2 linked regions of the Homo sapiens genome follow. The gene in region 1 interacts genetically with each later gene. Each region holds a gene or a part of one and is shown on either strand. Other genes may lie near its edges.

Region 1 (4,244 bases):
GAGAGTGTCACAATATCTTTATTTTATACTGAAGAAAATAGAGACTCTGGAAAGTGCAGGGAATGGCTTCTGCATGGAGATCTGTGGCTAAGCAGGTGCCCTGGCACCGTCAAGGGTCCCCAAAAGATGGCTGGCTGGAAGTGACGGTTTGCATGTATATGTGTGTGCATGCATGTGTCTGGGTGTGCGTATATGTGTTGCAAGCAGATGCTAGCATTCTGGCCTCAGTCATCCAGCAGGGTTCTATTCGACCTTCAGAGGTAAGGAATAGGTATTTGTTAACCTAAGTGAGAATCTCTGATTTACTGACATCTGTGAAAGTATTGACTGAGCCTGGGTTCCCTCCCAGAAAGGGCTGTGAGATTTATGCCATAGGTAAATATGATAGTATCTCTTTAGCCTGCACTAATCAATGAAGGCAGAGATTTTCATGAGAATACACAAATGTTTAGAATGGACCCTGGAAGGGTAAAAAGAGCCCCAATCAATATCGTGATCATTAGATATTTTCTTCCCGTAGCTGACATATGGTCAGGTGGGCTTTTCACTGGGGACCCCGCATTGTAGTGTGGGCACGCTCTGGCGGCTTTTATATGAGAGGTGATGCTTTCTGTGTGCACCGTGCACGATCTGGCTTTCTGGATGCAAGCAGAGGGGTTGATTTCGCTTCACTGTGCCTGCAGGATCTGGGCTGGGAAGAGGGTGCAAGAGATGCCCGTGTCCTCTGTGGCTGGGAGGGGGAAGGGAGGTGTGTGTGCATGTGCACGTGTGTGTGCACGCGTGTGCATGTGCGATGCCTGCGGGGCACAGCACTGAGCATGGCCTCCTCTGCCTTGTGTGAGCAGGAAAGTCGTGGAAGGCGCTGACGCTGTCCCAGAAGAGGCCGTACGTGGACGAGGCGGAGCGGCTGCGCCTGCAGCACATGCAGGACTACCCCAACTACAAGTACCGGCCGCGCAGGAAGAAGCAGGCCAAGCGGCTGTGCAAGCGCGTGGACCCGGGCTTCCTTCTGAGCTCCCTCTCCCGGGACCAGAACGCCCTGCCGGAGAAGAGAAGCGGCAGCCGGGGGGCGCTGGGGGAGAAGGAGGACAGGGGTGAGTACTCCCCCGGCACTGCCCTGCCCAGCCTCCGGGGCTGCTACCACGAGGGGCCGGCTGGTGGTGGCGGCGGCGGCACCCCGAGCAGTGTGGACACGTACCCGTACGGGCTGCCCACACCTCCTGAAATGTCTCCCCTGGACGTGCTGGAGCCGGAGCAGACCTTCTTCTCCTCCCCCTGCCAGGAGGAGCATGGCCATCCCCGCCGCATCCCCCACCTGCCAGGGCACCCGTACTCACCGGAGTACGCCCCAAGCCCTCTCCACTGTAGCCACCCCCTGGGCTCCCTGGCCCTTGGCCAGTCCCCCGGCGTCTCCATGATGTCCCCTGTACCCGGCTGTCCCCCATCTCCTGCCTATTACTCCCCGGCCACCTACCACCCACTCCACTCCAACCTCCAAGCCCACCTGGGCCAGCTTTCCCCGCCTCCTGAGCACCCTGGCTTCGACGCCCTGGATCAACTGAGCCAGGTGGAACTCCTGGGGGACATGGATCGCAATGAATTCGACCAGTATTTGAACACTCCTGGCCACCCAGACTCCGCCACAGGGGCCATGGCCCTCAGTGGGCATGTTCCGGTCTCCCAGGTGACACCAACGGGTCCCACAGAGACCAGCCTCATCTCCGTCCTGGCTGATGCCACGGCCACGTACTACAACAGCTACAGTGTGTCATAGAGCTGGAGGCGCCCCGTCCGGTCAGCCCTCGCGCCCTCTCCTTCTTGTGCCTTGAGTGGCAGAGGAGCCGTCCAGCCACACCAGCTTTCCTCCCACCGCTCAGGGCAGGGAGGTCTGAACTGCGGCCCCAGAGCCTTTGGCCTAAGCTGGACTCTCCTTATCCGAGTGCCGCCTCTATCCCCTTCCCCACGTTCCAGCCCCTGCAGCCCACATTTTAAGTATATTCCTTCAAGTGAGTTTTCCTCCAGCCCCTGAGAGTTGCTGTCTCCCAGTGGAATGTTCACTGACGTCTTTTCTTGGTAGCCATCATCGAAACTAATGGGGGGACAGACTTGATAGCCAAGGTCCCTTCTGGTCCAGTTTTCTGATTTAGGGTTCTCTCAAGATTAATAAAGGAAGATGGGGAAATTTGACTCATTAATGAGCTCGCTAACCTACGATCTGGTGATAATTTTGTGTGCACAGCCCAAGGACCACGAGGCTTTCTGCACTTTCTGCACCCCCTTCCAAAGTGACCACAAAATTTCAAAGGGACTCATACAATTTGAGAAAAAACAGTCAACCTGATTTGAGAAATTAACCAGTATGGCTAACTATATCACAGAAAATGGGATTGAGTTAAAACTATTTTATTTTAAATATACATTTTAAAGCAGTTCTTTTTTTTTGTTAATTTGTTTATTATACACACACTTCAAGAGAATATGCACAGTCTAGGCCGGGCACGGTGGCTCACGCCTGTAATCCCAGCACTTTGGGAGGCCGAGGCATGTGGATCACCTGAGGTCAGGAGTTTGAGACCAGCCTAGACAACATGGTGAAACCTTGTCTCTATGAAAAATACAAAATTTGCTGGGAGTGGTGGTGCATGCCTGTAATCCCAGCTACTTGGAAGGCTGAGGCAGGAGAATGTCTTGAACCTAGGAGGTGGAGGTTGCAGTGAGCTGAGATTGCACCATTGCACTCCAGCCTGTGCAACAAGAGTGAAACTCCATTTCAAGAAAAAAAAAAAAAAAAGAATATGCACAGTCTGAATGTATACCAGGAGTGTGAGAGACACATGCCCACTTCATGCAACTCCTAAACTCAAAGTCTAAATCAGATATTTTTATTAACAATGACAACTTGTTGCCAACTCCCTGTTTCTAATGACCAAAGACCCAGGGTACCTAAAAGGACTTTGCAACCAAGCAAAGTCACTGTCTTCAAATCTGGATACACACTTTCCCCTCTGTAGATTCAAAAGGTGCTTCCTTCCCGGCTGTCTCCAGCTTCCTTACTCTCTTTTCTGGGATTTCTTTTTCTCTTCTTTCTGCTCTTCCTCCACTGCTGAACTGGTCCCTAACTGAAACAGCCCCTGACTTATCCCAAGCATGCTTCCTTTAGCTGCTGTGAGAATTTGTCTTCCTCACCAGCCAGGTCCTCAGGCAAAGTCCTCAGCCAGTGCTTTAGAGCAACTTCCCGCAAATCAGAAACTCACTGTGATTCCAAAAATGTTTCTGAGCCCTGGACCCCTGCCCCCAAAATATTTTCATCTTTCCCCCAAACCTCCTTTAAAGGAGCATGCATAACAGTGTGCTGAAAGACAGTTGTTGGTTTTTTGATTTTAGCATATTATTTCCTGTATGAAATATGTTTTATATAATCTCCTATTATTTTTATCTTATGTTTTGTATTGTTGATAAATCCTTTTTGTCCTTCTAAGATGTCCTATTGTAAAATCACTTATAAGGTATGATTACTCTTTATGCTATTACTTTATATGCCATTTGGTAATAAATAGTAAATTGTTGATGATATGATTGACTGATGCGCAGTCCAGAGCATGTATGAATAATCTCATAAAACAGTATCACAGACATTAAGCTAAACTGTTTCGTTTTTTTGAAAGAACAACTCATACTTTGGAACAGTTGTCAATATTAATTTGTTGCAAATATTTAATTTAAATAAACATTTTTGTACCATGACTGTTCTATCTTTTGAAATATAGTTTTGCAAAAAGAAAAGGTTTCCAAGCAAGACATAAATGTTACATCGGGTGCTACTTGTGGTATTGATCAACATGTTTTCTACATCGACTTTTTTATTTTAAAAAGTTGTTATCTGGTAGGGATGGTTTATTTTATTTTATGAGTTATGCTAAAGAGATAAATCCAAATTTTACGCATTGGAATCTGCTGTTTTTATTGACAATGAAAGAAAATGTCAACTCATGACCTACATGTAGAACAATTTTCTCCTTGTGACGACTTTACACTCGTAAAGTGGAATGAGGTGACTATGAGGCTGTCTGAAGAAGGAAAGTAAGTTTTGTCTACTCGTTTGCTTACTTAAAACTGTCACAGCTATTTTTTTTTTTTTTTTGTATTTTTAGTAGAGACGGGGTTTCGCCATGTTGGCCAGCCTGGTCTCGAACTCCTGACCTCAGGTAATCCACCCGCCTCAGCCTCCCAAAGTGCTGGGATTA
Region 2 (7,583 bases), on another chromosome or scaffold:
GGCATGAGAATCGCTTGAACCTGGGAGGCGGAGGTTGCAGTGAGCCAAGATCGCTCCATTGCACTCCAGCCTGGGTGACAGAGCAAGACTCTGTCTCAAAAAAAAAAAAAATACCGTAATTTTTAACCAATCCATAAGCAATAAAAGTAGGTCCTAAAGTTAGTAAGCAACTTTGACAGAGTGCAACCTACATTCAAACTATAGTTTGTTTCTTAGTTTGTCCTCCCCTCCTTCCCAAAATACAGCTTCTACTGTATTTTGGGTACAGTATTTTAGAAAATGACTACATTTCTCTTTGCAATATCTTAGTGAAAAACAGAATACGTGACTCTGATTCTAACATTACATCCACTATTCAGTATTTTCATGTCAGTACACATTTAAAGGACAGAATTTAAAGTTCCTTACCAAAGCATAACAAGGCAACTAAAGAAAAACAATTCAGTGGGAGAAGTTCCAGAGGAGGGAAAAGTGGTCAAATGAAAGACATTATTCTAAGACAACAGTTGGAGAAACTGATGGTAGAAATAATGAAAGTCCATAAAATTAAGAAAAGATGAACTGAGGCTTGTCCTGATAATTCTTGAAACACAAACTCTGACTGTGTCCTGAAAGTTTAGGGACACAGGTATGGAATATGTAAATGAACTGTCACATAATACACAGGCTAATAAACTTGCAGAACTCATTACTTTAAAAAAAAGGACCAAACATTGTTAAGTTTGAGAAAGTTTTAAATTAATCTAATCAAGATCCTGAATGGAGAACTTCGAAAAGAGAGATAACCCCAGGCTTACATTCATTCCCACAAAGTATCTCTCAGCAGTGGCTTCAGACAGAACGAGCCCACAGTTGTCTAGACGGACCACAATTCTCAGTATACTACTGTCTATGTCTTCTTACATAAAATTCTGCTCTATGTTTAACCCTTAAGGTCTGTATATGAAATATTAATTACTTTCATAAACCTTTAATTTGGTACTCTGACAAGATACCTAAAATACAAGTCAAAGGTTTTATAAACTTCAGCTTTAAAATAATGGAAGGAAAAAATCATTCCTGACTTAAATATCAAAGATGTATCCTAAATTGATACAGAAATAAAGATAATTCAAAAAAGCAAAGCCTCAAACCAAATAAAAAAGTGCTGTAATTTGTTACTCTAAAAAAAAAAAGGGGGGGGTGAAAGGGAAAAAATCACAACTTTTATAAAATGATTAATGTGATAAATGCTCTTCCCCAAGTAAGTTGTGATTCCTAACAACTCAAGTTCCTGAGTAACTGACATCTGTTACAGTGTCCTCCTGACACACATGAAATTGGACCCAGTAACTGAGAAGGTTAACTCCTGTACCAATAGGTACTGAAATGAACCTCTCTCAAAACAGGTTTGTTGTTGTTTTTTAAAAAAGGAATTTTACTTTCAGGGGTCCACAGGTTAAGTAGTTCTCATTCGGGAACCTATATGAGAGTACCCCCGAAACAAAAAGTACACCGCACACACCCACAGTACCAGGAAAAGGTTACAGATACAGATGGCCTCTGTGCGCACATATGCTCTGGCTTCCTCAATTTCCCTTTGCCAACTGCTGGCCAGAAAGGTGCGAGTATTCACTTTGGAGAAAAGACTCCTCCGACAGAAACCTGCATACTTGCATTACTCGTACAAAGAGCTAAAAAGTTACAAAATACAGGCCTCCCTAACACCTTCCCCCCTCCGTGAATAAAGCTAGACTCCCTCATTGATAGACTCCCAACACTACTGGAGAACATCAGCAAAACTCCAGGAGGAAGCGCCGGCATCCTCCCACTTTCTCCCCCTCAATTCCCTCTCCCGGGGCCACTCACACTTTTAGAAAAGAGCCGCGGCGCCGAGAAAGTGGGTTGGTTCCCTTCCTCCTTCGGACTGAAGCGGCAGCTGCGGAAGGCTCCGGCGCGGTACTGAGGAAGAAGCGGTGCTCGTGTCGCTAAACCAGGCGGCAACCCGGGTCTCTTCCGCGCTGCCAGGGGAGGGGAGGCGGCGGCCCCGCTTACCTCCTCTTTTCCTCTTCCTGGGTCTTTTCAGGCTGCGGCTTCTGCCCGTCCAGGGCCACTTCTCCCGGGACAGTCAGGTTTGGGAGACTCCGGATTTTGTTTTTGTAAAGTTTCCTCTGGGTGGAGGCTGCGGCCGGCCCCCCGGGTCCCCCCCGGCCCCGCCGCCCTCGGGACTGGGGCGGGGGAGGGGGGCTCTAGGAACTCCTCCCGGAGTCCAGCCAAGGAGCCGGGGGGCCGGCGACTGGCCAAGGGAGAAGACCCCCGGAGGGGGCTGAGGGGAGGGGGAAGGTGAGGAAAGGACGGCGGCGTCGGTCCTGTTCTCTCCGCCGCCCCAGCCGCCGCTTCACATCGGGGTCCCCGCCCCCCCGGCCGGGGGGTGGTTGCCGAGCTTGGTTGGGGCCCCGGTTCATACACTCCGGGGCAAGATGCTACGGCCCCGGGCGGGTGGCCGAGTCGGCGGCAAGGCGAGGGACCCGGCCGGCTCCGCTCGGCGCCGCCCCCGCTCCCGGCTCCCGCATGTGTCGCTGCGGCTGGGACCCCCCTCCCTACACCTTGGGGGTCTCGCCCCACGCCCCACGGGACGAGGCAGAAGCTCTGGCGCCTCCTCAGCGTTCTCTCACCGCGGAGCAGCTACCCACTCCCGGCCCGTGGTAGCCGCCTCCCTGCCCCCCAAGCCGCCGGCTCCGGCTCAGGCTCGGGCTCCGGCTCTGGCTCCGGCTCCGGCGTGTGCAGCCGCCGCTGCCGGCCGGGAAGGTGAGGGGGGGAAAGGAGTGCGGCCGCGGCTCCCGCTGGCCCAGGTGAGAGCGAAGGTCTCGGCGGCGGCCAGTGCAGGGGGACTGGATCTCTCGGATGCTCCTTCGCTCTCAGTCTCAGCGGCGGCGGCGGCGGCAGCGGCAGCGGCAGCGCCCGGAGCTCAGCTCGCTGTCTCCCTCGCTCTGTGCGGGGCTCTCGCCTCACTCCAGAGAGAGGGGCGGGAGGAGAGCGGCGCCTGCCGATGACGCAAGTCACCTAGCAACCGCTCTCTTCCCCCTCCCTCTTCTTTCCGCTCTGAGGCTTCCTCCGCTGGCCTTTTTCCCCCTTCCAGCCACCCCGCCCTGGGCGCCTCTGGCGCGCTCTGATGACGCTCCAAGGGAAGAGGAAGTGGGGATCGGCGAGCGGGTGGGTGCGCCTCGGGCCGCGGGACTCGCAGCCGCCACCGCCGCTGCCGCCTCTACGGCCGCGTCAGAACTGAAGAGAGGAAGGGGAGGAGCCGAGTCGAGCCTAAGCTGCCGCCCGATCTTACCCCTGACCCGAGGGCGGCCTGGAGAGCTTGGTCTGTAGCGGTTTCCTTCGGGGCAGGTGGGGACTGCTCCTTTGGGAGGAAGGAGGAGGCCCAGGCCGCGTCTTCAGGCAGCTGCGCGCACCACCCGAAGGTGAGGCATTTGGCCCCAAACAGACCCTCGAAAAGCCGGACTGATCGAGGAGTTACCCTACAGCCTGATCTGCACCTGCTCCAGGGAGAGAGCGCCCCACCCTTCCCGTGGCGTGGGGTGAGACCCAGCGTTGGATAACGTGTGGTCGGGCCGAGCAAATGTTTGATGAATGAATGAATGAATGAATGCCTCTCTCACGTGGCACTCGTGAAGCTCAGAGGATATGGTGGAAGTGCAAGCGCTTTGTAAACTGCAGTGCATTGTAAAAATGAGTTGTAATACATTCCTCCCCTCCCCCTAGCCATGAAAGGAAACAGGGGTGCGGCTTGAGTACAGAGTCACAACCTGAGTCTTTAGTGGAAAAGGAGACGAAATGCCGAGCAAGGGAAGGGACCCATCCTCGCGCAGATTGTTAGGGCGGCGGGAAGGGAGGATTGGAAGGGAGCCATCCTCTGGGAGATTGCTGAAGGATTTTTGACTGTCAGGGGAAGAATTTAATAGTCCCTCACTTTTACGAATGGTTCTTTCTTACGGTTTGGAGCTTTCGAGAGCTTCTGGTCTTGGTTCATCAGTGTACGTTGTCATCAAGAAATGTTGGCCTGTTTCAGGTCTGACTCAAAGGTTATTTTCTTTCTAAAATAAGTGTTATTACTATTATGCAGCTTTTCCTACAGATGTTATCCTGGAAAGGAAAGTTAAGTAGAAACTCATGAAGTTTAAAGTGTAGTTCTCTAGGAAAACAAATTTAAGATAAAAGGACCAGAATCCTCAGAAATCTGTCTTCAGTGAATAGTATGAGAAAAAGATTAAAGCAGCAGCAATGATGAAAGCAGATTCCACAATTCTGTCCCTGGACCCTAGTACACTCTACCTCCTTGGGAAGCAGTAGTAATGGATTTTACAAGTCTTTCCACCTGGAGGAGGGGGTAAGGTAGGAGCAAGTGTATTATAGACAAATGTGGGAAGCTCTGGGTTTCTCCCACTACTGCCACTACCATCTGCAAACAGTAAACTAAGGAAACTTTTAACTGGGTAAATCCAAGGGCTCGTGTTCATTAAAATGCTGCGGGAAAGGTGGTGAGAGGGGCAAAGGAGGATGTGGCAAAACCAAGGAGAGACTCACAGACTAGCACCTGACCCTACTGCCCTTGACCTGAAGTTCCAAGAGCCAGGTTAAATATCCTGCTTAAATTACCCTGGATTTTTCTGTCTTTACGTGACCAATCCCCTGCTACAGCCTTCCAAATAAGACTCACAGGTAATCAGACCAACAAGTGATGGTCTCACATGGCTACAAAATAAATATTTTTTGTTTTTCCCCCTCTTCCTATCTTACAACAGGGGAATGGTGGAAATTAAAGGAGTAAAACACACAGATTTAGGGGATTTTGTGAAGCTAAACACCTCAGAGAGTTTAACCTTTGTAGGCTTTGAAGGAAAAGAGTGCAAACATCAGAGTTCTGCAGCCCAGCAGAGAACACCTCCAGTTAAGTGTGTACCACATAGGGTTTTTCAGCAGCGTGATCTTCTGTTTTCATTGTCAGTGGCTCCACCTTACAACCTCAGTGCTGAGGAACAGAAGGGCACTCAGGAGAGCCTGAGCCACTTACTTAGAAAGTATTTAATAACAGCACACTAAGCTTACTGGGCTAGATACCCACCTCAGCACCCAGCTTGATAACAGGAGGAAACAGCTGGAACTGGAGACTGGAGAGAAGGAAGTTCATACATTTCCAACTTGGTCTGCATCTCTTTAGTTCCTTGTATTGCTTATTAATCCAGAGGAGAAAACAGCTAGTTAATTAAAAATTCCAAAAAATCTGAAGTTTTAGCTAATAGTTACTTCCCTGGTTCATCAATTTAAGATAAGGATCTAAATACTGTGTTAAAATATAGAAAAACGGAGACTCTTATAAGGTTTTTGACCTCTACACTTGAAAGTGAGCTCTTACAAGAAACTAATCAGTGTTTCGTTATTCCATATCAGTGGCTTTTACTGTCAAAGATTGTGTAAGCTAAATTATCTGGCAAAATTTTGCTTTCCAGAAATACTATCTATATTAATTTTAACATTTTTATTGTGAAATATAGTTTAAATACATAAAGCAATTATATAGTATAAGTGATTATAAAGGAAACCACCATGTAACCAATCAACCAGGTCAAGAAATGGAATATTTCCAGCAACTCAGAAGTTCCCCTCCCTGCCATGACCTTCCCGAACACAACTCTTTCCCTCCCTCCTAAGTGTAGTCATTATTCTAACATTTGTGATAATCATTTCCCTGCTTTTCTTTGTCGCTTTGTCGCAAGCATGCATCCCTAAACAATATATTGTTTAGTCTCACTCTTTCTTTTGAACTTTATGTAACTGGAACAATATAATATGTAATCTGTTGTTCTTGCTGCTTTTGCTCAACATTGTTTTTAATTCATATGTTGTTCAGGTTGTTCCTATAGCTGTAATTTGTGCATTTTCATTGCTGCATATTACAGTGTCCCATTATAACAATATGTGACAATATGTTTAGCCATTCTATTGCTGATGGACATCTGGGTTGTTTCCAGTTTAGGATTGTTATAAATGCTAATGTGAACATTCTTCATATATGTATTCCATCACATCTACGTCAGTTTCTGTATAACATATACCTGGGAGTGTAATATGTATCATAAACTTGAATAAATAATGCCAAGTTCTTTTCTAGAGGGTTACACAGTCACACTAGGTATATATGAGTCCCATTGCTCCACACCTTCACAACACTTGACATTATTGGTCTTTTTGGTTTTGCCAGTCTGGTGGGTGTATGGTAATATATCATTGTGGTTTTAACTGTCATTTCTCTGATTACTGATGCTGTTGAGGACCTTCTTGTATACAACTAGCTATTTGGATTTACATTTTTGTGGCGCGTTAGTATCTTTTCAATGTCTAAGTCTCTGAGATGCCCAACTTTTCAATATCCTTTCATAGTCCACATTTGAACAGGTAAAGTAATGTTATGGGATGTTTAGGGTGTCGCTTTTCTGGCCAGAAACCTCTGTAGCCTGTGGCGCCTTTGCACAAGTCTTGCTCAGGCCCACTGGGCTCATTCCACCTACTTGGCCTGGCAGGCTGTGCTCAGCTTATGCTACCGGCCTGGATCCCACACCTGCCAAGGGCAAGTACGGCGTGGAGTGGCAAGGCATGTGTGAGCGAGCGTGAGGTCTGGCTACTGCGCAGTCAGACACACCAGCTGCTGCAGTGGGGCGGGCAGCTCCAGATGCACCAGCTCTCTGCAAGGCTGTGGCTGGACCAGGCATACTGCAAGCAGCTTCCACAGCTGGCACCAGGGAACACATTGGCACCCGGAAGCTTGGAGACGCCAGGAACTGCAGGGACCCAAAGAGGGAGTCACAGTGTTGGCTTGGGGAGCTCCCAGGTCTGGGCTCCCCAAAAGGCCACAGCCCTTCCCTCCTCTTCACCCGCAACGTGGCAAGCAATGGGGATGTCTCAGCCCCATTTGTGTTATATCTCGTTTAGCCTCGCCATCTGGCAGGTCCCAAGTTCTTGTCCCGTGACCAGGAAGAATGAGGTACACAGACAAGTGGAGGGTGAGCAAGATGTTATTGAGTAATGGAACAGCTGAGAGGAGACCCACAGTGGATAGCTCCTTTCTGCAGCCAGGGTGTCCCAGTGAGTGTTCAGCTGCTAGCAGGGAGGGCAGCTCCTTTCTGCTAGGCAGGTTGTCCTGATGAGTTTTCAGCTCTCAGCAGAGAGGAGAGCTCCTCTATGCAGGAAGGTTGTCCCAACAAGTGTTCAGTTCTCAGCAGGGAGGATAGCTACTCTCTGCACCTGGTCATCCTAACAAGTATTCAGCTAGCGGCAAAGAAGGTAGCTCCTCTCTGCAGCTGGTCATCCATCGCCTGCTCAGTTCTGACTGAGCCCCGGGCCTCAGGGGAGGAAGTGCATGCTGATTGGTCCTTGGGCAGGCCTAGGAAAAAGCACCATAAGTTCCCCCTCTAGTGTGCAGGATGGGCAGTCCAATCCCCAGGCTTCAGGCCTTCCCCAGCCTAAAGGTGGGACTTCACTGGGAACCCGCTCCTTTCCACACTGGAGCCTGTCTGCCTCCTACCACTTTTCATGGCACCCAG

Evidence for each region. Genes that interact genetically often act in the same process or in processes that back each other up.
Region 2: changes in SOX7 (region 1) and FBXW7 are lethal when combined (synthetic lethality), as found in Homo sapiens cells (one study listed by BioGRID).

Annotation. Positions count from the first base shown.
Region 1 is NC_000008.11:10,723,268-10,727,511, reverse strand, and holds the end of SOX7 (transcription factor SOX-7), read left to right. Parts: intron 1-845; coding exon 846-1,774; 3' UTR 1,775-3,744; downstream 3,745-4,244. UniProt on the Homo sapiens protein: Binds to and activates the CDH5 promoter, hence plays a role in the transcriptional regulation of genes expressed in the hemogenic endothelium and blocks further differentiation into blood precursors.
Region 2 is NC_000004.12:152,533,093-152,540,675, forward strand, and holds the start of FBXW7 (F-box/WD repeat-containing protein 7), read right to left. Parts: upstream 3,001-7,583; 5' UTR 2,035-3,000; intron 1,942-2,034; 5' UTR 1,849-1,941; intron 1-1,848. UniProt on the Homo sapiens protein: Substrate recognition component of a SCF (SKP1-CUL1-F-box protein) E3 ubiquitin-protein ligase complex which mediates the ubiquitination and subsequent proteasomal degradation of target proteins.